Regions from separate parts of the Homo sapiens genome. Here region 2 is linked to region 1. The links come from fine-mapping of genetic effects on gene expression. A gene starts in region 1. The other region holds a variant in brackets. All regions are shown on one strand. Distances are from middle to middle.

Region 1 (12,211 bases):
TGGCTCACACTTGTAATCCCGGCACTTTAGGAGGCCGAGGCAGGAGGATTATTTGAGCCTAGGAGTTCAAGACCAGCCTACGCAATGTGGCAAGACCCTGTCTCACATCAAACAAACAAACAAACAGGCTTCTACCCACACTCTTCTATACAAATAGTTTTCTCTCCTTTAACAGAACTCAACTCTTCAGAGATTTTCTAACCATACAGTAAAGGGTGAGACACTTTGCTAAAACTTGTGGAGTAGTTAAAGATGAAAAGGGGACAGTATCCACCTTCAAGGAGCCCTCATTCTAGCAAAGAGAGACATGCATGAAAACCAGTAAACCCTAAATACTGTCATAAAGCATGAGGAATGCAGTTCTGTGCCCCACTACAAATAAACACTGCACTTAGTAAAGTCCTCACTGGAGGAAGACCCCATTCACAATGCAAATCCTATTACTCACTATACAACTTGCTACTTCTAACTTTGGGAAAAAAGCATTGAGGAAGCAGCATAATTCTCAGGGCTTCCATAGTCAACTGGGGGTAATCTTGCTCCAGGCTACACATTCTATCGCACCCTCTCTCCAAAGACTCCCCAGGGAAGGAAAATAAGAAAAAAGCAAAAAGTGACCTTAGACAGGCACAACTGTGGGACAATGAGGGAAGGCAGAAGATTGATGGGGTAAAACAAATGCATAAGTGAAAATAGAGCTTTTCTCCACTTCACCCTTAAATAAGCCAGGATTTTAGGTATGATCTTAAGGAGAATGAATGAAGTGATTGTTGAACTCAGGGAAGTAGGAAGGTTGCATGACCTTTGTACCAGCTTTAGGGGCTGGCATTTCTGAGAGAGGCTGGCCCTTCCTGTAGAGTTCAAGAAGTTGGGTGAAAACAAGGCACAATCAGAGGGCAGACATCCTGCCAATTGTGCAACAACCAATTGTGCAATGTGCTTTGAGCTTCCCTGCTGATCACCTTCTCAAAACAGAGGGGCCACAGTAAGGAGCCTACATGTGCAAACGCCTAACACAGTACCTAGCATACAGTCAGTAGCATATAGGAAGGCAATGCAGTCCGGTGGGAATAGCATGAAAGATTTAAAGTATGCCCTCAGACCGGGCACGGTGGCTGATGCCTGTAATCCCAACAATTTGGGAGGCTGAGGTGGGCGGATCATGAGGTCAGGAGTTGGAGACCAGCCTGGCCAACATAGTGAAACCCCGTCTCTACTAAAAATACAAAACTTAGCTGGGCATGGTAGCACATGCCTGTAGTCCCAGCTACTTGGGAAGGTGAGGCAAGAGAATCGCTTTTACCCAGGAGGCGGAGGTTGCAGTGAGCCAAGATCGCCCCACTGCACTCCAGCCTGGGCGACAGGGTGAAACTCCATTTCAAAAAATAAAAATAAAAAATAAAAAAACAAAGTATGCCTTCACAGCTTCAAATGTGGCTTCTGCCACTTAAAAACTCTGTACCTTGGCCGGGCGTTGTGGCTCACGCCTGTAATCCCAGCACTTTGGGAAGCTAAGGCAGGCGGATCATGAGGTCAGGAGATGGAGACCATCCTGGCCAACGTGGTAAAACCCTGTCTCTACTAAACATATAAAAATTAGCCAGGCGTGGGGGTACACGCCTGTAGTCCCAGCTACTCAGGAGGCTGAGGCAGGAGAATCACTTGAACCCAGGAGGCAGAGGTTGCAGTGAGCTGAGATTGTGCCACCGCACTCCAGCCTAGGCAACAGAGTGAGACACCATCTCAAAAAAAAAAAAAGTAGCTGTTGCCTTGTGAAAAGATAGACAAGTTCATTAAATTACCTGGCTTCTGATCTGCAAGTGGGTTACCTGGAAAAAGCGTTGTATGCTCTAAAAGTCCTAGATAAAAAAATTTATTTAACTTTCTCTTCTTCTTTCCTCTGCCTCACCTTACCCCCTGAACTTCCCAGAATGGGAAAAGGAAAGACTTACTTCACTTTACTAGTGCAGATATGGTCTTTTAGTTAGGAACTGTGGTCAATTATTAATGAGAACTGCAGCTATAGTAACACTGTAGATAAACAGGCATTAAAATACTAACAGATCATTGAACACCTGTATTTATTTTTTGCTCCAAGGACTCCATATATTCAGATTTTCTTCAAGATCTTATCCTTTTTTCTCTTTCCGTACATTCCCATTCAACCACCCCTTGAGTATTAATCACTAGTCCAAATGTTTGTTCAGTCCTGACATTGCTATTGGGCATTTCAGGACAGTATCACCACTGTCAGCTGTCACCTCCAAAAGGATAACCAATCAGCCCCTCAAACCCACTGACTCTATAACAGGACGTCATCATTCTCCTCAAACTTCCTCCTTCTATGACTTCCAGATACTTTTTTTTTTTTTTTTGAGACACAGTCTTGCTCTGTTGCCCAGGCTGGAGTGTAGTGGTGCAATCTCGGTTCACTGGAGCCTCTGCTGCCGGGTTGCAGCGATTCTCCCGCCTCAGCCTCCTGAGTAGTTGGGATTACAGGCATGCACCACCACGCCTGGTTAATTTTTGTATTTTTAGTAGACACAGGGTTTCACCATGTTGGCCAGGCTGGTCTCAAACTCCTGACCTCAGGTGATCTGCCCGCCTCAGCCTCCCAAAGTGCTGGGATTACAAGCATGAGCCACCATGCCCAGCGACTTCCAGATTCTTAATGATGCTCCCTTATAATTGCAGATGCCTGAGTTCTAAAACCAGAAGTCCTCAAGTCAAATCTGTCACCAAGTGCTATTCTACTTCCTTTTTTCTCCATTCTATCCACAGTTCAACCCTTACTTGCCCCGAGACATTTACAAAGCTTCCTAACACATCTCTCAGACTTCCGGTCCTTTTCCCTCCAATTTAGCCTAACACTGATGCTTCAGTGAGCTTTCTAAAACACAAGGCACTCCATTCCTCCCATGCCTTCAATGGCTCCCACCTGCAACCAGGAAAAAGTATAAACTTTCTACGATGAAATTTAATGTCCTCCATGATACAACTTCAACATAACTTTTCAAACCAAAGTTACATGATTCCTTCACAAACTCTTAGCCTATGCTCCGCCAAATCAAAACTCTCCTTGTTCCCTAACCCTACCCTGCCTTTTATGTTTTTACAGCTTTGCTGAGCAAACCTCCAGGCAAACAGTAGGAACTAATCAATGCCAGTTGATTAATCAATTGAAATCAATACCCTGGCTTCTAATCAATAATAGAATCTAGGTAGATTCTAGATTGCAAAATTCTTTTGACTTTTCTGAAAGTTTAAACCTTTTCATAATCAAACACTGGGAAAAAATTAGTTAAATGAATAAATAAATGAGAAAATGAATCGCTTGGGACCTGGGTTACATTCTCTCCCAAGAATCATACAGTACAAAAAGATATGTGGCACTATCTTTTTGAAAGAGGGGTAATGGGATACAGAGTCCCAAAAAGGAAAGGAGGAAGAGCTTACCTTTAGGGTTCAAAGTAAATATTTTGGCCTGTAAACAATTCTAAGCAATTTAAAGACAACCAATAACTAGAATCAGACTAGAGAGAAAAAGGTAGGAGGTAAGTTCCAACTATATTGGAAAGATAAGCTGCTAAGAATTTGCTTTTTCAGGCTCCAAGATCTAAGGACACAGTCCTTCCCCCTCTTTCACTACCACCACCCTGTCCTGCACCCCAGGGTCTGAGTTAAAGCAATGAAAGCATGTGATTTCATGTTCAAGGTTATACCTCTAATATCTCTTAAGGGAGAGCAATCTCAATACCCTGGTTTCAGTTCAGATACGCTGTAACAGCTGTCTTGTGAACTGTCTATTAAGGCTTACATCTTTGAGCTTGCAAATATAGTATAAAAGTTCAAACTCCACTACTGTTTTTACCAGGAAAGTACAGTTCTTAGCTTTTTGCCCAGCTTACCTCTCTCACAAGTCAATATAGACGTTAATGAGTCATTGTTCTAGAGGTATCTTTCTAATTCTGAGAAGCTTGCCTACTTCTTTTAAATGTTCTTAGTTCAGTCAATGAAAATCTCACATTATAAAGCCATCGGAAATGGTAAACTAAAACAATCATGTTTGCTCTTTAGTGAACCATACTTCCTATTAAGAAGGGGTCACTGGCCAGGCACAGTGGCTCATGCCTGTAATCCCAGCACTTTGGAAGGCCGAGGTGGGAGGATCACTTGAGGTCAGGAGTTCGAGACCAGCCTGGGCAACATGGCAAAACCCCATCTCTACCAAAGATACAAAAATTAGCCGGGCATGGTGGTGTACACCTGTAATTCCAGCTACTCAGGAGGCTGAGGCACAAGAATCCCTTGAACCCGGGAGATGGAGGTTGCAGTGAGCAGAGATGGTGCCACTCCAGCTTGGGTGACAAAGTGAGACTCTTGTCTCAAAAAAAGAAAGAATGGGTCATTACTATTTACCTTGAGTATTTGGGTGCTAATAAACAGATATCTGATGATACCTGGGGCAAGAACTGAGTTCCTCCCCTCTCATTGCCTTAGTTCTGTGCATCCCAGGGTAGTATTCAACACTCAGTGTTTCCTCTGACAAACTAGATGCTTCCCAAAACAAAAACAAACTCATTTTTAGAATTCTGTTATATTATTTGCTTCTTGTTTTTATTTTTTGTGGGGAGTGAACTGGTAAACCCAGTGGACTTTCTTAACACTCTTCTAAGTCATTCAAACTGTCAGTCAAAACCCACCTATTTCTCAGGCTAGTAGAATCCCACTATAAAGTGATTTATAAACTGGATTTATATAAATTGGGGGATCAATTGCCCCTCCCAAACAATCATCTCCTATAAAAGATTAATAAAACAACATCTGGTTAAGAACACTGACACTACATTATAAAGGGTTGCCCCTGTACTTAGACTAGCATGAGGTACACATCTAGAATGCCCAGTTAGCCAAACGGTCTTGACGACCATGCAGACTTTCATATGCCAACAAAGCCGGTGCAGTGTACTTTTCCAAAAGTGCTCCAATTCTCCTTTTGGACAACTTTCTTAAACGTTATTTACCAAGCTAATAAAATGTATTCTCAATGGACTTTTTACTCTGCTTACATCTTTGTTCTTACTCATCCCAAAGCAAAGAATGGAAAAAAAATGAGTTGTACATTTAGCCGGGGAAGGGAAAGGCAAGTACTGAGGGGCTCCTTTTTCATTTACTGATGCCAAAACTGAGGCTGTGGAAGATAAGTTACGTCCCTGATGTCATCCAAGTAGTGGATACCGGAACCAGGAATTGCACAGAATTGTCCAGCTCCAAAACCCAAGCACCTTGCTTGGGACCCACTGGGGTTGCAGTGAAGGTGGGGGGCTCAGAGGTGACTGCACACGGGTCATGCATAGCCACAGTCATTATATGGCCAGAGTTTTAAACATTATTTTGTTCTGTCTTCACCATAGACTTCATCATCAATCATAACTGATAAGGAAAATTACACTTAGCTGAAAAGCCAAGTCCCGTGCTAGGGAGGCATTTTCTGTATGTTATTTCTATTTCCAATAAAACAATTCTTTAAAAAGAAAAACTTATTATCTCCATCTTTCAGATGGAAAGACTGAGGTTTAGTAGGCTTAAATAATTTGCCCGAGGTCACTCACTAGCCAAGGCCAGAACTGGGATTTAAATCCACAAATATTCCAAAGTCCTTTTGTTTCTGTATCACTTCACAGGGAGCTGCTTCCACCTGTCTCCTGTGCCCTTGGTTTCTGCTAATCCTACATTCCAAGAATAAAAGTCTTCCTATGCGTTCCTAGGCAGAAGCCAAGTTTCCCTGCTTTGGGCACGTTCAAAATAGAAGGTATTTTCCGCTTCTCTTGCTTCTGAGCACCCACGAAATCAACACATCCCCAAAACACGCGTTGAGGGAGTAAGGGAAAGTGTCCTGCACCCGCCACCCTCCCGCGCTAAGAGCGGCAGAGGACCCCACAGCTTCGTACTTCCCCGGAGGAGCTCCTGGAGTAGGAGACGGCTTCTAGCCTGGAAGAACCCCGGGTGCGACAGTTGTGCCAGGAAACTTCAAGAGTATTCCCTCGGCTGGGCGCACGCAGTACATCCCCAATGCTCCAATTTGAACTTTGACTCGGCCACGACCACCCCACTCCAGTCTCACTCTACGGTGCTTTCTCCCCTGTTGGTGCTGAGGGCTTTTGAGACTACCTGCCCCGCGCTCCCTAAGTCCGAGGGACCGAGGCGAGGACCTGTCCCGCTGAGCTGGCACGACCCACGCAGGGCAGGCGGCACTTACGCGGCGCAGTCGGTGCTCCTCCCTGAGCCGCGGCGCGCAAGGACCCCAGCCGGTTGTCCTTGCAGCGCTTCCCAAATCAGGCAGAAGTGAGGCAGCCCCACCCAGTCACGAGGACCCTGCAGAACTCGAGCCTTTAAGCGCTCCTCTAGGCTCACATGACCCAGACCCACAGGGCAAAAAGTGCGTCGTCGTGTCCCAACCTCCTGGTCCCAGAAACCTGGCCGCATCAAGTCAGCGCTTCCCATGCTGGAAGAAGCAAGCAGCCCCAGGGTGGAATCTTAAAAATTAATGAAGAGCATCGGCGGGGTGCCATTCAGGTTGGTTTGTCCCTTTGTTTTATTTTGATTTTGTCTCCCAGTTTTTAAAAGCTGCTATCTTAAAATTTCAACCCTGTATTTTGAAATTATTTCTGCACTCTAGGACTTACTTGCAAGCCCAGGATTTACATTTGGAAAGCGAGTGGTGTTTGATTCCCACTGTTTAAAAAGGCAACACACGTTCGCTGATGGTCTACATTCCAGCTGCACTAGCAGTAAGCTCGCACCAAGTGCCACTGTCCTGCCAAGCACTCTCCTGAATCACTGCGCTGGAGTCTCAGAGCCACCTGATGTGTTCTGTACCATTATACCCATTTTGCAATTGGGGGACACAAACTAAGTGAGGTTAAGTAACCCATCCAGGGTCACATTGCTTGTAAGTGACCTGAGTGTATATTATTAGCCACCACCAGGTGCTGGGCATCGAGCCAGACAGTACGGGAGCAAGAACTAAAAAAGGCAAGGAGGTTGCAATGGCAAGTAGATAACACAAAATAAAGGAGGGTCATCATTATCAGCAACAGCAGCGTCAACTGCCAGACAGGTGGGAGAGGCCACGGGGAATCTTCTGCACTGTCCCGGGCCAACCTCCATCTCCTCACAGCTAGCTGCAGGAGTGAGCCCAGGGAAACCCGCAGTAGAGCAGCCCAGCCAACCCGACAGTCAGGGGGAAAAATTGTTTTAAGCCACTTTCAGTTTCGCGTAGTTTGTTATGCAACTAAGGCTAACTAAAGCACTAGTTTTACGAGCTGGAACAAACTAATGTCACTGAATATCTGTTTTCTCCTAAGTACCTACTTTATTGGGTTGTTGTGAGGACTCACTGAAAAACTATGTGTAAATCACCCAGCACAAAGTATGTGCTCAGTGACTGCAGTCATTCTTTGCTATCATACCTTCCATATGGAAGTACTTCCTACCCACCTAGCTCTTTAAGGAGAAAAATCTGTTTGTGGGAAAATAATTCTTTTAAGGCCAAAATCAGCCCACCTTTAATATATGCAGGACCCAGGGCAAAAGTACAAACAGAGATCTGTAGGCCAGATACCTAAATATTTAAAAGTTATAAACAAAGTTAACAAATGATTAAGTACAATAAGTTCTACCTTCCTACCTAGACAAATATACCTTGGGAATTGACATGAAAGGCCAGATTGAAACTTTGGATGATCTGCACTTAAATATGATGGTGCAGGGAGAGGCGATTTCCAGTTCCTGGTTTGCAGCCACCTCCTCTCTTCCCACAGGGCTCTAGTCCATTGGTGGAAGCTCGGTCAAGCTTCCCAGAAGCAGCTGTCCCCCAGCCACCTCTTGGGCACAAGAGTATGAACACCAGAGTCAGCAATGTTCGCCCATGGGAGTACAGACATTAGCAGATAACACTGCTGCTGGCGTGCAGACCCTTGAAGCAGGCTCAGTGCCATTTGGGGAGGGAATTTGGAATTTGCCTTCTAAAGTGTGGGCCCTGGACAAGGGCTCCTTGGGTCTAAGTATAAGGACAACTACTGGCCAAAGAATACCTGTGCCCACGTGGAACCACTTAAAAACTAAACTGAATTTTACAGTAAACACAGGAGGAGCCATGCTGTAAGCATATTTATTCAAAAACAGGGTGTCCCAAAAGTCTTCCTGCAGTTTTAGTAACCTCAAGGCTATAAATGCTGCAACTTATAAGAACACCATTTGAAAGTTAATTTAACACTATTTATCTCTGTGAATGTTGAATAACACGTTTTAACTTTAATTTTTGTTTCAGTTCCCCTGAGTGAAATATGGCATACATTAACCAGAAGAGAAAATTACATTTATTAAAATAATTAAAACAGAGTCAAAAGAAGTAAACGTTCAAATGAGTTTTGTAAGTTTGTAGCATTTCGACTTAAGAAGTTATTAAAGCTTAAAACTGCACTGACCTTTTTGGGGTACCCTGTATTCGGATTTGTCGTGTGTCAGGTTCTGTGCTAGACACTTGATTAAAAAGAAAAAACAAGAAAAAAGATAGTCTTCTTTAGGGAACTTGAAGTTTAGTTGTGGGGAAGGGATGAAGGGGACACACAGATTGATCCCATCATACAATATAAGAGCTGTAATTGGGGCTGATAAAGTGTGTGTGTGGGGGAACAGAGGACAGGGACCAAATGACTCTGCCCGAAGAGCCAGGGGAATCCTGTCAGAGGAGGTGACTTGAAGCTAGACATTAAAAAATGAATAGCCACTGAGGGGAAAGGTGGCAGCACAGGCAATGAGCAGGCCACCTGCACTCAGGTTGATGCTGTGCTCTTGGACAGATGGACTGTGCGACACCAGGCGTGTTCAGGGTGGGTCGGGGGTTAACTAATACTGAGGTTAGAAAATTAGACTGGAGCCAGCTTGGAAAGGGCAAGAATGCTGAGCTCTAGAGACTGATGTTGTTCAAAATTAGTAGATTGGGAAGTCTGTTTCCCTTTTTTTTTTTTTTTTTTTTTGAGACAGAGTCTTACTGTGCCGCCCAGGCTGGACTGCAATGTCGCAATCTCAGCTCACTGCAACCTCCACCTCCCGGGTTCAAGCGATTCCCTGCTTCAGCCCCCCGAGTAAGCTGGGACTACAAGCACCCGCCACCACAGCCAGCTAATTTTTTGTATTTGTAGTAGACACGGGGTTTCACCATATTGGCCAGGCTGGTCTCGAACTCCTGACCGCAAGTTATCCACCTGCCTTGGCCTCCCAAAGTGCTGGGATTACAGGTGTAAGCCACCGTGCCCAGCCTGGAAATCCATTTTCTTAATGAAAGAGAATAAAATAGAACAAAATAGTACAGAACAGAATAGAACCATAGGACAGGAGTATGTGCTTTCCAGGGAGGTTGTAACTGAGCAGCTATTAACAGTAGAAATTTATTGTCTCATAGTTCTGGAGGCTACAAGTCTGAAATTAAAGTGCCAGCAGGGCCAGGTTCCCTCTGAAACCTGGAGGGGAAGGATCCTTCCTCGCTGCTTCTAGGTTCTGGTAGCCCCAGGTGTTCCTTGGCTTGTGGCAGCATCAACCCAATCTCTGCTTCAGCCTTCCAGGGCTTTCTCTCTGTGTCTTTTCACAGTGTCTCCCCTCCATGTGTCTGTCTCTGTGTCCCAATTTCACCTATTTATGAGGACACCAATGACATTGGATTAGGGTCCACTCTAATGACCTCATTTTAGCTTGATTACTTCTATGAAGACTCATTTTCAAAATAAGGCCACTTCACTGCTGCAATAGATATTTTTAGCCCTTCTCTTGTATTGAGAATATTCAAAGGTTGGCCAACAAATCGGTTTGCAAAGAGATTCGTTAAGCCTTCTTTGATTGGCTTTCCTGAAAACAAGATTTAAAACTGTCAGGTCGATCACAAGCCCTTGTGTTCTCTGCACCTGCATATTCTAGTGAGGTTTGGGTTTGTTAAGCCCTAGTGGTTCAGAGCATGGGTCAGACTCAGTTTGAATCTAGAACCTTGCACCTAATGACCATAAGCAAGTTACTTAATCTCAGTTTTCTCATCTGTACATGATAAAAATACTATTAGCTATCTTGCGGTATTATCAAGAGGAAGAAATAAGATAGTAGTACATATAAAGTGCTTGTCATATATAAAGGCTCAAAAAATGGCAGCTGTAACAATAATAATGGTGATCATGACAATCAAGATTCTAGGCTGTGACTGCAGTTCTTTCCAACTGTCTATCCAAGACAACTAAATTGTATCTGGACACCACACAAAAACATGCTTCTCACTGACCTATAGCCGGAGCTTTGCTGAACTCCTTAAATTCCAGTTAAGAAGACACAGAGAATAGATCATTTACACATCTTGATCAGGTAAATACAATTCCAATTGTCTAAGTTTGTAGGTCTGATTTTACATTTGCAGCTGCTGCCAGCAAGATAAATGTGGAGCTGCAATGGAAACAAGGGGAATTGATTAACCTTGTAGGCAATCATGCCCCTCTTGGAAGTGTCTAGGTCTCTCCCTGCACTTGTCAAGGCTTCTATAGCCATTGTTCCTTTTCAGTGTTGTTACTGATCTTCAATGGGGCCACCGGGTAGCCTGGAAACACAGCTCAGAGGCACAGCGAAAAGAGAAATGTCACAGCCCCCATGCACCACAATTAATTGTTCAATAAACACTTTTCTTAAGGAACGAAGCCAGATGTGTCACACCCACACACTTGCAAAACAACACTGTGCTATTAAAAAAGGGAGGGGTGGGTGGTAGATCCAGCTGAAGAAAGTCTACAGCTGTTCTGCACCTCAGCTATAAGCATTGAAGGCTTCATTAAGTGAGAAGTAGGCCCAGGTGGCGGTAACCAAGCTCTAAGACACAGACACATGCCCTGATCAACTTATTGAAGTGCTTCAGTCTCCTTGTACTTGGTAAGGAAGGGGCACCTCCTAAGACTAGCCACAGGCTACAGACTCCAGGGAAGTTGTGGATAATTACATGGTAATTATTTCTAATAAGTGCTTCCACTCTTAGCATGATTATCCTTCCCTGGGTTGCTTGCCTCCTTATGCCTGGTTTATGTAGGGAAACAATGTCCAAATTAATCTACGTCTTTTGTAAGTGAGCCTATACTCCTTTGACGATCCAGATGGTTTAGCGCCCTTTAGCAGCAGGTGTTAAGGCTTTCTTACAAAAGGCATATTTTCAGTTTCCCTTCGGCTATGGAAAAAGCCAGGCAAATAAGACTTCGGTGATTTAAGGATAAATTATGGGATTAATATAGACATGGCCACTAAGGACAGCTGAGCAAGCCCTGTGTAAAACCAAGAGAAATAATCATAGTGAAACTTTGTAAGGATTTTATGGTTTGCCCAACACTTTTTATATATATCATCTCTTTTAATTTTCACATCAGCCCTGCGAGGTATATATTGATATTATGATGAACCTGCCAGTGTGCTCAGGATAGTATCTGATTAAGGGCATGGCCTTAGGAGTAGACCGATGGCATCTGAATCCCAGCTCAGCCACTCATTAGCTGTGTGACCTTTGCTGTGTTAATTAACCTCTCTAAGCCTTAGCCTTCTCATGTATGGGAAGAGAACACCACCAATCCTACAAGGCTGATCTGAGGATTTGACGAAATTGTATGTATAGCCATCAACACAATGTCTGGCCCATAGCAAGCAGGTCATTCACTGGTTGAAGGAAAGACATTTGCAAAGGACAAACAGATAGTAAACAAACTCCCTTAGGTGAAGTAGTATTTGGAGTCTCCTCTTTTTCTCTTGTTTAGGTTTTATTTTATTTTCTTCGAATGGAAATAGTGGTTAGTGCAGGTGCTCTGCTTACTCATATTGTGCCTATGAAGAGTTGCATGATCCAAAGTGGGTTATCTAGAAAAGTGACTCTATAGCCTCTGAAGGGTTTTCCAGAACTTCAAGAACTAGGTCACATCACCAAATAAAGGAATACAAGTAAAATGGGCAAAAGGTATTTCTTGGTAGGAATGCTCAAGCAATTGCATAAAACCTTATGTTGCTTTTTATGCGTGGCAGCTCAGGCTAGACTGCTCAGAACTTCTTGCTGGGTTAACTGCTATGGATTTAAAGGATTCCCCCTTGATTCTGAGACAGCTACACCTAGGAGCACCAAGCAGTGAGAAAGAGAAAAGGTGCC
Region 2 (12,211 bases), 86 kb before region 1:
ATGGCCTGCCTTTTCCTTCTGACTTTTAAAACATTCTCTTTGCTTTTTGCTATTATTCAATTTCATTAAAACCACCTAAAATATGAATTTATTTTCTCTCTCCCACTGCTTATTGTATATGTGCTTCAGTACATGTGTCTGTGCATTCATAACCTTTATCAGATATGGCAAATTTTCAGCCACTGTTTCTTAAAAATGGCTTTTTTTCATTCTTTCTGTTCTTACCCTCTCTGACTCTGCTTAGACATATAGTATTCTCTTCTTAATGCCTCTTAATCTCCCTTCAAACTTTTTATCTTTTCTTCCTGTGTTCCATTTTGGTAATTTCTTCAGATCTATCTTCTGATTCATTAAATTTATCTTCAGCACTGTCTAATCTACTCTTTAACCCATGCACTGAGTTTTAAATTCAACAACTGTATCATTCATTTTTAATGATTACAATTTGTTCTCTTTCAAATTTGCCTAGCCATATTTATTAGTTTCTCATTTATTGCTTGTTTTGTAACTCCATTTTTATGCCTTCAAATATTTCATACATAGTTGTTTTATCTCTCATATGTCCTATATCTGAAAGTGCCTTGGCTATCTTTCTCTCTTATATTTGTTTCTGTTTATTCACAGGCTGTAGCCTGTTTACTTTTGTGTTAGGTGACTTTTGATTACAAGCTTACATTTTTGTTGAAAATGGCTTTATATTTTTGAAAAATCTGAGAGACTGTAAACACCTCTATTTTCTTTTCATTTATTTATTTATTTATTTTGAGAGGGAGTCTCACTCTGTCACCCAAACTGGAGTGCAGTGGTGCAATCTCGGCTCACTGCAACCTCTGCTTCCTAGGTTCAAGCAATTCTTCTGCTTCAGCCTCCCAAGTAGCTGGGATTACAGGCGCCCGCCACCATACCTGGCTAATTTTTTACTTTTTTAGTAGAGATGGGGTTTCACCATGTTGGCCAGGCTGGTCTTGAACTCCTGACCTCAGGTCATGTGCCCACCTCAGCCTCCCAAAGCACTGAGATTACAGGCATGAGCCACCGTGCCCGGCCCTACCACTAAGTTAAGTGTATTTGCTTCTGCTAGTTGCCAGAGTTCCTAGCACTGTGGGACCAGTTTGGGCCCTCCACATGTCCCAGCCCTGGTGCTGGGCTCTCAGGTCAGCAGTGTCACTTTACTTGGGCCCACAGCCCAGCTGCCAGCTGCCAGCCCAGCACTGAGGACACTGGTTCTCAGGGCCACCCTGCCTTATTGCTCTTGCTCCACAGAATTCCCTTCTCTGCCTTTTGTTTTTCTGGTGTTGTTTTTGTTTTCAGATCCACTTTCATTTTATTAAAGGCATTACAATTATGTTTGTTGTCATTTATCCTGAATTCAATTGTATTTTAGTTGTATTTTCCTTCACAGAGTCTACTTTACCAGTCTGCTGGATGTAGGAATTGAATCTACCCATTATCAAATATACTAGCATCTATCCCCTTTACTAGGAAGACAATTAACTTAAAAAAAGGTAAATTAATAAATTAGTAAATTTTGTGTTTCAGAGCAGTTTTAGGTTCATAGCAAAATTGAGTGTAAAGTACAGAGTTCCCATGCACCCCTTATGCCCTCTCCCATACAACCTCCTCCACTATCAATATCCCTCACCACAGCGATGTATTTGTTACACTAACAAAGCTACACTGAAACATCATCAAATCACCTAAAGTCCACAGTTCACATTAGAACTCACTGTTGGTGTTATGCGGTCCATGGGTTTTGACAAATGCATAACATCTTGTATCCACCATTGAAGTATCACACAGAATAGTTTCATTGCCCTAAAAATCCTCTGTGCTCTGCCTATTGATCCCTCCCTCCCCCAACTCCTGGCAACCACTGATCTTTTCAGTCTCCATAGTTTTGCCTTTTAGAGAATGTCACATAGTTGGGATCATACAGTACGTAGCCTTTTCAGATTGGCTTCTTTCACTCAGAAATATGCATTTAAGTTTTCTACATGTCTTTTCATGGCTTGATAGCTCGTTTTTTTTAGCACTGAATAAAATTTCATTGTCTGGACTAGTTTATTCATTCACCTACTGAAGAATATCTTGGTTGTTTCCAAGTTTTGGCAATTATGAATAAAGCTGTTATAAATAGCCCTGTACAGATTTTTGTGTGGACACAAGCTTACAGTTCATTTGGGTAAATACCAAAGAGAATGACTGCTGAATGGTATGGTAAGAGTATATTAAATTTTGTAAGAAATTTTCAAACTGTCTTCCAAGGTGGCTGTATCATTTTGCATTCCCACCAGAATGAGAGTTCCTATTGCTCCACATCCTTGTAAGCATTTAGTGTTGTCAGTATTTTGGATTTTGGCTATTCCAATAGGTCTGGAAGTGGTATCTCATGGCTTTAATTTGTAATACCCTAATGACATATGATGTTGAACATCTTTTCCTTTTCTTTTTTTTTTTTTTTTTTTGAGACAGGGTCTCACTCTGTTGCCTAGGCTAGAGTACGGTGGCACAGTCATGACTTGCTGCAACCTTGAACTCTTGGGGTCGAGTGATCCTCCCACCTCAGCCTCTCAGGTAGCCATGACTACAGGTGCACACCACCACATCCAGCTAATAAATTAATTAATTATTTTTATTTTGTAGAGACAGGGTCTCTCTATGTTGTCCAAGCTGGTTTCAAACTCCTGGGTGATCCTCTCGCCTTGGCCTCCTGGAGTGCTGGGATTATAGACATGAGCCACTGGCAACCAGCCAACATCTTTTCATATGTTTACTTACCATCTGTATATTTTCACTGGTGAGGTGCCCAGGTCTTTTTCCCATTTCTAAATTGGGTTGTTCATTTTCTTATTGTTGAGCTATAAGGGTTTTTAAAAATATATTTTGGTTAACAGTCCATTATCGGATGTGTCTTTTGCAAATATTTTCTCCCACTCTGTGGCTTATCTTCTCATTTACTTGACATTGTTTTTGGTAAAGTAGAAGTTATTAATTTTAATGATGTCCAGCTTCTCAATTATTTCTTTCATGGATTGTTCCTTTAGCATTGTATCTGAAACATCAACACCATACCCAAGGTCATTTAGATTTTCTCCTAAGTTAATGCCTACAAGTGTTATAGTTTTATGTTTTACCTTTAGGTCTACAATCCATTCAGAGAACATTTTTGTGAGGGGTGTAAGATCTGTGTCTATTTCATTATTTTGTTTTGTATGTGGATATATCCATTTGTTCCTGCACCATTTGTTGTAAAGACTATCTTTGCTACATTGTATAACCTTTGCTCCTTTATCAAAGATCGGTTGACTATATTTATGTGGGTATATTTCTGGGCTCTCTATTCTAGTCCATCAACCTATTTGCCTATTCTTTTGCCAATGCCATACTTAATTATTACAATAAATAATATCTTAATTATTGTAGCTTTATGGTAAGTCTTGAAGTTGGGTAATGTCAATCTTCTGACTTTATTCCTCTTGTTCAATGTTGTGTTGGTTATTCTGTGTCTTTTGCCTCTCCTTAGAAACTTTAGAACAATTTATCCTTATCTACAAAATGTTACTGAGATTTTGATTGGGATTGTATTGAATCTATGGATCAAGTTGGGAAGAACTGACATCTTGACAATATTGAGTCTTCATATCCATGTACACAAAATATTTCTCCAACTATTAGTTGTTCTTGATGTCTTTTATCAGAGTTTTGCAGTTTTCCTAATATAGATCTTATACATATTTTGTTGTATTTATATCTAAGTATTTCATTTTTGAAGGGTGCTAATGTAAATAGTCCTGTGTTTTAATTTCAAATTTCACTTGTTTATTGGGAGTACATAGGAAAGTGATTAACTTTTCTATATTAACCTTATATCCTGCAACCTTGTTATGATTAATCACTTATTAATTCCAAGAGGCTTTTTTGTTGATTCTTCTGGATTTTCTACATAAATAATTATGTCATCTTCATTTAATCATTATCCAATGCTCTTCTTCTCTTTATATAGATGTGAGTTTCTGACCTATATCACTTATCTTCTCTTTGAAAACTTACTTTAACATTTCTTACAAAGCAGGTCTACTAGCAACAAATTCCCTCAATTTTTGTTTGTCTGAGAAAGTCTTTATTTCTCTTTCACTTTTGAGGAATACTTTTGCAAGGTGCAGAATTCTAAGTTGGTGGGTTTTATTCTCTCAACACTTTAAATATTTCACTCCATGCTCTTCTTGTTGGCATGATTTCTGAGGAGAACCTAGATGTAATTCTTACCTTTGCTTCTCTATAGGTAAGGTTTTTCTCCCCTTTGGCTTCTTTTGAGACTTTTTTTCTTTATCTTTGATTTTTTTGAAGCTTCCATATGACTTGCCTCCTTTTCTTGATTATTTTGTTTTGGCATTTATCTGACTCCATGTTTTCTGAGCTTCTGGAATCTGTGCTTTGATGTTTTACATTAATCTGGGAAAGTTTGCAATCATTATTGCTTTAAATATTGCTTCCATTTCCTTCTCTTTCTTCTTGTTCTGGTATTCCCTTTATGTGTATGTTACATCTTTTGTAGTTGTCCCACAGTTAAGGCTATTCAAAAAAAATTTTTTTAAGTCTTTGTTCTCTTTACTTTTCAGTTTTGGAAGCTTTTATTTATTACATCCTCATGCTACTCTTAGCTCAGCTGTGTCCAGTCTACTAGTGAGCCCACCAAAGACATTCTTTATCTCTGTTACAGTGTTTTTGATCTCTAACAGTTCCTTTTGATTCTTATAATCTCCATATCTCTATTTTCAATATCCATCTGTTCTTGCAGGTTGTCTACTTTTTCCATTAAAATCCTTAGCATATTAATCATAGATTTTTTGGCAAGTATTATCTTGATTCCTAAGCCAGGCAAAGATATCATAAGAAAAAAGAAAACTGCAAGGCTGTAACTCTGACATTCATGCAAAAATTATCGATAAAATATTAGCAATCCAAATTCAACAATACACCAAAAAGATTCTACAGCATGATCAAGTGGGATTTACCCTTAGCATGCAAGACTGGTTTAACATAGGTACGTTAATCAAAGTGACACATCACAGACTGAAAGACAAAACCACATGATCATCTCAATTGACACAAAAAGTATTCAACAAAATCCAACATCCTTTCTTGATAAAAACACTCAACAGTCTGGGTATA[C/T]AAGAAAAGTCCCTCAACATAATAAAGGTCATTTACAAGTGACCTTTGGCTGAGTCCTCTCCCCACCCATGGTGTTTTAAACTCTCAGACTTGTCCCTATGGAGCCTCTAGTAATTTACCAATTACTGTTCAGGTTTCCCTTCCTCACCATTTGTTTCCATGGAGGGTTCTACTTACAGGTTTGCTCCTGTTAAGTTTTGACTCCCTATATTCATCTCTCTCTCTAATTTTGGAGGGCAGCAATTTGCCCTGTGACCTCAGTTTCAACAAATCTAAAAAGAGTTCTTGATTATATTTCAGTTTGTTTGGCTTTTTACTGTTGTTACAATGGAGTGGAGACTTCTAAGCTTCTTACACACTGGAATGGAAACTGGAAGCCTGTCCATTCTTTTTTATTTTTGTGTTTTCCAGGGTTTCTTGTATAACTTTTGAATGTAGCAAGATCTTAAAGACTTTCACAAAATTTGTTGAACATTTTTGGTAATAGCTTATATATATATAAATAAGCACCTTCTAACCATCAGGCACTCTTCTAAGTGTGTTTACATATATAATCTCATTTAAACCTCACAGAAACTCACACATAAATACTGTTTTTATTCCTGTTTTATAGACAAGGAAGCCAAAGCGCAGAGAGTTTAAGTTTCCTCTCCCAAAGGAGCATAGCCAGTGACTGGTGTAACCAGAGCTCAAACTCAAGATATGCAACTTAAGAACATGTTCATAACCACCATACTCTATTAACCAGCTAACTCCTAAAAGTCCTGATCATGTTTTGACTTCATTCAGTCATAAAGAATTCAAATAGCCCAACAGATTGTTTCTCTTTCTAGTTATTTTTGAAACTGCCAATATGATATTTCAATTTACCACCCAAACATCTGAAATTACTGAAAGGAAAATGACTTTTGAGTATGCATCTCCTGTATATCACTGTAAGAAAAGGATTATGTTTTCACGTAGCTTACATAGAAACTAACGTAGTTTACAGAGAAGCTAATTTTTATACAGAAACTACATGAAAACGTAATTCCAGAAACCCAGGAAGGTCTTCCTTCAACCATCAGAGATGCTCCACATTGGCCAAAATGAACCCAGTACTGGAAAAAGACCTCTAGTTCCTATGAATAGAAACAGGCATGCTATTTTCTATGACAAATTAGTACCGAGTCTTACATAAATATGACTTTAATGGTACTAACGTTTTAAGCCAACCTAGGTTGTTCTGATTCCCGTTCTGAACACTGAGGTTCAACATCATTAACAGACAAGCCAAAGATAATCACTATCCCAAGCGCTTTGCCAGCTGCGTGAGTGAACATGCTGTCTGTTTTAGCAGCAGCCACTTTTTGGTGGCATATTTTGTTCTGTTTCTTTATGGAAATATGGTTTATCTATACCACTAAACTCTTTTCTTTTTCTGGCAACCGATTCAGAGTTGAAAAGTTTATGCCAGACACGGTGGCTCACACCTGTAATCCCAGCACTTTGGGAGGCCGAGGCGGGTGGATCACCTGAGGTCAGGAGTTTGAAATCAGCCTGGGCAACATGGTGAAACCCTGTCTCTACTAAAAATACGGAAAAAAAATTAGCCAGGCATGGTGGCATGTGCCTGTAATCTCAGCTACTCAGGAGGCTGAGGCAGGAGAATCACTTGAACCCGGGATGTGGAGGTTGCAGTGAGCCGAGATCGTGCCACTGCATTCCAGCCTGAGCAACAGAGTGAAACTCTGTCTCAAAAAAGAAAAGAAAAGTTTAGAAAATACTGGATTTTGATTTTATTGGAATTCATAGTGGTAAGTTTAGGATACATGGGCAAGAGGGACAGAGAAGTTTAAATATCAAAATGCAGGATCACCTCTAATCAATATATTCTCCTTTATCAGTCAAAACATAAGGAGAGTTTATGTCATCAGGTAAGCTGTTTGTCCCACCTTACCCTCACATGGCTGAGAAAGGAATCATATTCTAGTTAAATTTGTACAGTGAGGCCAGGTGCGGTGGTTCATGCCTGCAATCCTAGCACTTTGGGAGGCCGAGGTGGGCGGATCACCTGAGGTCAGAAGTTTGAGACCAATCTGACCAACACGGAGAAAACTCATCTCTATTAAAAATACAAAATTAGCTGGGCATGGTGGCACATGCCTATAATCCCAGCTACTTGAGAGGCTGAGGCAGGAGAATTGCTTGAACCCAGGAGGTGGAGGTTGCAGTGAGCCAGTCGCACCATTGCACTACAGCTGGGCAACAAGAGCAAAACTCTATCTCAAAAAAAAAAAAAAAAAGTGTGTACAGTGAGAAAATATATCTCCCAAGGGCACAAATAACACATATCAAACTTATCTGCTCTCCTCTCAAAAAAATTCACTCGTTCCATTCCTTAACATCACATTACAGAACATCATCTTTAAGACATGAACGCTAACCTCTTTTTGGTTTAATAAATTTGTGGATAATAAGCACCTAATGGATTATGGACAGGTTTATAGATATATTTTTGATACAGCACTAATCATTCATTCATTCCTGACATCTGCTCCAGGCTGGTGGTGGTATGGGTGTCAGACTGAGAGTCTGCACGTTAGAGTGTGCCATGTACACCTATGGGGGTAAAGACAACGCGTTCTGAGAGCTCAGAGGAGAGGACAAACAGCAGTGCCTTCTGGAGGTCCTCTGAGAAGTCTTGAAGCAGCAAGCACTAAGGGCCACTACATGTCCCCAAGAAAACCAAACACAAGGATGGCTGAAATGCTGGCCTGACCTAGTTAGACTCTTTCTTTCCAAGAAAGTAAGTATTTCATCAAGTTTTGCAGGTTTATAATGGGTTTGTAGACTTGGCATATAATTGGTCTTAAACTATTTTCAACAATGGTTACGTGTCCAACACTGTACTAGAAGCAGGACCCAGAAATGGGCCTCCTAGGTCTGGCATATTCTAAACCACAGTCTAGTTAGGGTGCATTGGCCAGGGACTGCCTGGATAGTATTGCAGATTGTGCACTGAACAATCCTAAGACACACCATTCCTAATATACACATTGTAGAAATGAATATTCAGCATGCCAGCAAATGGCAGTAAAGAGTCTGGTTTTAACTAAGGCAGTATATCAGGACAATTTCTGAAAGATCGAAATAAAGTATCTTGAGGAGAGGATGCCTTTATTCTAATTCATACAAAAATCCTATGGGCTGCCGACTGCCCTGTTTTTTGTTCATTCAAAACAGGATATAGGGAGGAAGTGGATCACTCAGTGGTGGTCTCCCCAGTCATCAGTACAGGCATCCTTCGGAGTTGCCCTAGAGACGATCCCTTGGGCAAAGGCTAACAGCACTGGAGGACCAGAGGAGGAGCTGAGAGCGTAGTACCAGGAAAGAAATAATACACAGGCTGACTTTCCCCATGTCATTTGCTCTTGGTGTCCTCCTTCCCAGTGGGAGTTCCAGGGCCCATGTCTTCTTTGCCTGAACCTCCAGGGCTCCTTTTCTGTGACCTCACTCTCCACTGGCACCTCCACTGGCAGCAAAGGCAGAGCATTTCAACCAGACAGCACAATGGCTTGACTTGACCTACTTCCAAACAGGGACCCTTTCTCATTCATCATTTCAACCTCACACCCTAAGGAGAGACTCAAAACACTGTGATTGGGTAAAGTGAATGAATACAACCATTAGGCAAAATGCATTTTCAGAATAACCAGTTGATTTCATTTATCCCTGACGTCATTGGGATTCATGTAACAAAGCAACACATAAGAGAAATCTGGCTCTTACACACGGCCAGTCATCTTTTTGGCTCTGCAACTCTTCCTTTCTCAAGAAAGGATGAGAAGTGGTGTGTGCCAAAGGGAATTTCATTTTAAGGAATAATCAGGGGAAAGTGGTTAAATTATTTTATTTTATTTTTATTTTTTTGAGACAGAGTTTTTGCTCTGTTGCCCAGGCTGGAGTGCAATGTTGCGATCTTGGCTCACTGCAACCTCTGCCTCCCGGGTTCAAGTGATTCTCACGCCTCAACCTCCCAAGTAGCTGGGATTACAGGCACCCGCCACCATGTCCAGCTAGTTTTTGTATTTTTTAGTAGAGAGAAGGTTTCACCATGTTGGCCAGGCTGGTCTCAAAATCTTGACCTCAGGTGATCCACCCGCCTCAGGCTCCCAAAGCACTGGGATTACAGGTATAAGTCACCACAACGGCAAAAGTGGTTAAATTAAAAGGAACAATATAAAACTTTGAATTGGAATCAAACAAAGAAAGGGGCTGTTATTTATGCTAATGACACATCATAAAAGTTAAAAAAAAAAAAAAGGCAGGACTCAAATTACAAATCACTTCTGCTCTGGGTAATCTGAAAGTTCCTAAAATAGTAACTGAAGTAGCTCTCTTACCTTATAATTATTCATGATTTCAGTTAACCATGGCTTAACTGACTGTACTGTATCTTCTCGCAAGTACTTTTCAACTATAGTTCCATCATTAAAAGTCTGATTCCCCACGTGGATGGCTTGTCTCACCTCTGGGAGTGACAAAAATTTCACATAGTAAAGCTGATCCTCAGGTTCCTGGCAGAAGGGGCATTGGAAAGACATAGGGAACATGATTGGTGGCAGGAACAGTATGTTGGGAAAAGCTGTGAATTTCTCATAACATACAACATGGAGAAACGTGACGGGACTATTAACTTGTCGCCATTCTTGAAATTTTAACTCGGAGGTTTTGAGATAATTTAGGTGGAATCTTTTTACTAATTAGAAATCTGAAATACCCTTAAAATACTCTTAAAATACCCAATTTGCAAATACAGGATTTTCCTTTGCAGAAACTAATCTTTTGCAATCTGTGACTCCCATTAGCAACCCCACTAGAGGCAAAGAGAGAGAAAACAAAAGAGATGAGATTATCAAAATCAATTCACTCCTTGTTGGTGGCTCTTTGGAAAGAAGGTCAAATGGATCACAAGGGCCAGGTTGGTGGTGTGCTGGATTTAAAGCTAAGAATTTCTTTTCTGTGTTCTGCTGTTTATTAAAACCACACACATGTATACATGTGCCATGTTGGTGTGCTGCACTTATTAACTCGTCATTTAGCATCAGGTATATCTCCTAATGCTATCCCTCCCCCCTACCCCCACCCCACAACAGTCCCCGGTGTGTGATGTTCCCCATCCTGTGTCCATGTGTATACATATGTAACAAACCTGCACGTTGTGCACATGTACCCTAAAACTTAAAGTATAATAATAATAAAATTAAAAAATAAAAAAAACCGCACACACACACAAAATTGGATTGACTATAATAAAGGGGAAAATATGTCAAATGTGAAAAGAGATGATACTTTATGAAGGACACAAGACAGAAGAAAAGTTGTCCATGAAGCTTATTAAAAAAAAAACTGCAATAAAGTCTCTGTAATAATCATTATACTGAAAGAAAGGAGTAAATGCTTTAAAAAAAAAACAGTTACACAAGGATTAAAAAAACTGTTAAAGTTTGAGTTTGACAACTTTGTGCTTCATCAACAATTTTTACTAACTGTGAATATATTGTTGTAAAGAAAAAAAGGTATCATCACAAATTTTGTTTCTGTCTTGTCTACCACATGTTTTTCTCTTAGTAGAATCTAAATCCAAAACTGCAGCATTGGCGAATTCCACTGAAACTAACGTTATACTTTATTTACAAACTAGTTCATAAATCAGGCAATTTTAAAAACAGAATGCATTGTCATAAGCATTAGACAAAGATTATACAAATTCAAACACCTACTTTGGCTCCTTCTGTTTGACTAATTCTACACAAAAGATATCAACTTTGGCCTACTTTTATGAAACAAACTACTTGAATACTTTGAGAAATATTCCAGAAGGCTTGAAGTGAGGGCCATACTAAATGCATTAAACATCTTAAAAGTAAGACAAAGCAAATATTTTCATTAAGGCTTTGGCAGTTTTGATTATCCAAGCGTCTTAAGTACAGAACAAAGAATGTGGGCATTTTCAAGAGACTCGTAAACAGACTTGAAGCTCTGGGACCTGAGACCCAGAACTCCAATCCCAGCCTGTGTCCTTCACAAAAGTGCCTCTATAACAAGCTCTACTTGGGGGAAATCATGTTCATCAGAAGTTGTTTTGAGTTATCTGAAATATCACACATTCTCAGTGGTCAGATTATAACGTATACAACACTGATGAGGAAAAGATTCTATGGGTTAGTAGACCACATCACGCGGTACAGTTTGGACATGTTGGTCTAGTATAAAGTCATCTATAATATTTCCCAAATCAAAGGAAGTTCGGTTTTGCCAAAAGTTTTAAGCAAACATTATTATGGTTTTTAAAATGTCATTACCGTGCACCGCAAAAAGTTATAGTAATTACTACATCCTGTAACATTCTGGAAGTAAGAAGGATCACTTGTTAAGTCGCCATCTAGTAGTTTATCCAGTATCTAGGTTGGGAGAGAGGGAGAAAGAAAGAAAGAAAGAAAACATCAGTGTGGATAAAAATGTACAGACATTTGTCATTTCATTTATTCAACAACTTTTTCATTCCTTTATTGTTTCATCCAGCGCCCACTTATTGTGCATATTCTCTGTGCTAGACACTGTCATGGCACTGGAGAAATGGCCATCAACAAAACAGACCAATGGTCCTCCCCCATGGAGCTTTTATTCTGGTGGGGGACAACAAGCATTTCTAAGTAAATTATATCATATGGTAGACAGTGATAAACTCTTGAGTATGTTAGGGAATGACAAGGAGAAAACTAAAGAGGAGTAGGAAGTGTCATGTGTGTGCATGTGTGTATGGGACAATGTAGAGAGGAGGTCACAGAGGACCTCACTTAGAAGGTGGCATTTGAGTAAAGACATATTGGATGAGAGGAATAGAGCCATGCAGACATCTAGGGGAAGGAAGGTTCCAGGCAGAGGACACAGTAAGCTCAAAGGCCTTGCCTATGGGAGTAAGCCTTGTGGGAAGGGTGCCTTAACATGGATCATGAACTGCTCACCAGATGACATGGAGAGAAGACGCAGGATA

Which allele goes with the higher level. Positions count from the first base shown, and alleles are read on the strand shown. Sizes are in standard deviations (SD) of each study's normalised expression.
For the expression in fetal neocortex of the gene that starts at base 6,368 in region 1, C is the low allele of the variant in region 2 and T is the other (small effect, 0.31 SD a copy in Walker 2019).

The links. PIP is the estimated chance that this variant, and not a neighbour inherited with it, causes the effect.
Region 2: its variant is fine-mapped to the expression of CPVL in fetal neocortex (Walker 2019, PIP 0.93).

Annotation. Positions count from the first base shown.
Region 1 is chr7:29,140,170-29,152,380 of GRCh38, forward strand. It overlaps CPVL (carboxypeptidase vitellogenic like), which reads right to left and starts at 6,368. Exons shown (of 13, transcript NM_031311.5): 1 at 6,260-6,368. It also overlaps a transcript of CHN2 not described here.
Region 2 is chr7:29,054,504-29,066,714 of GRCh38, forward strand. It overlaps CPVL (carboxypeptidase vitellogenic like), which reads right to left. Exons shown (of 13, transcript NM_031311.5): 10 at 11,520-11,618; 11 at 9,558-9,731. Among named protein-coding and RNA genes, the nearest start is that of CPVL-AS1, 20 kb to the right of the region's middle. The variant C/T (reference allele first, on the strand shown) is at 5,173.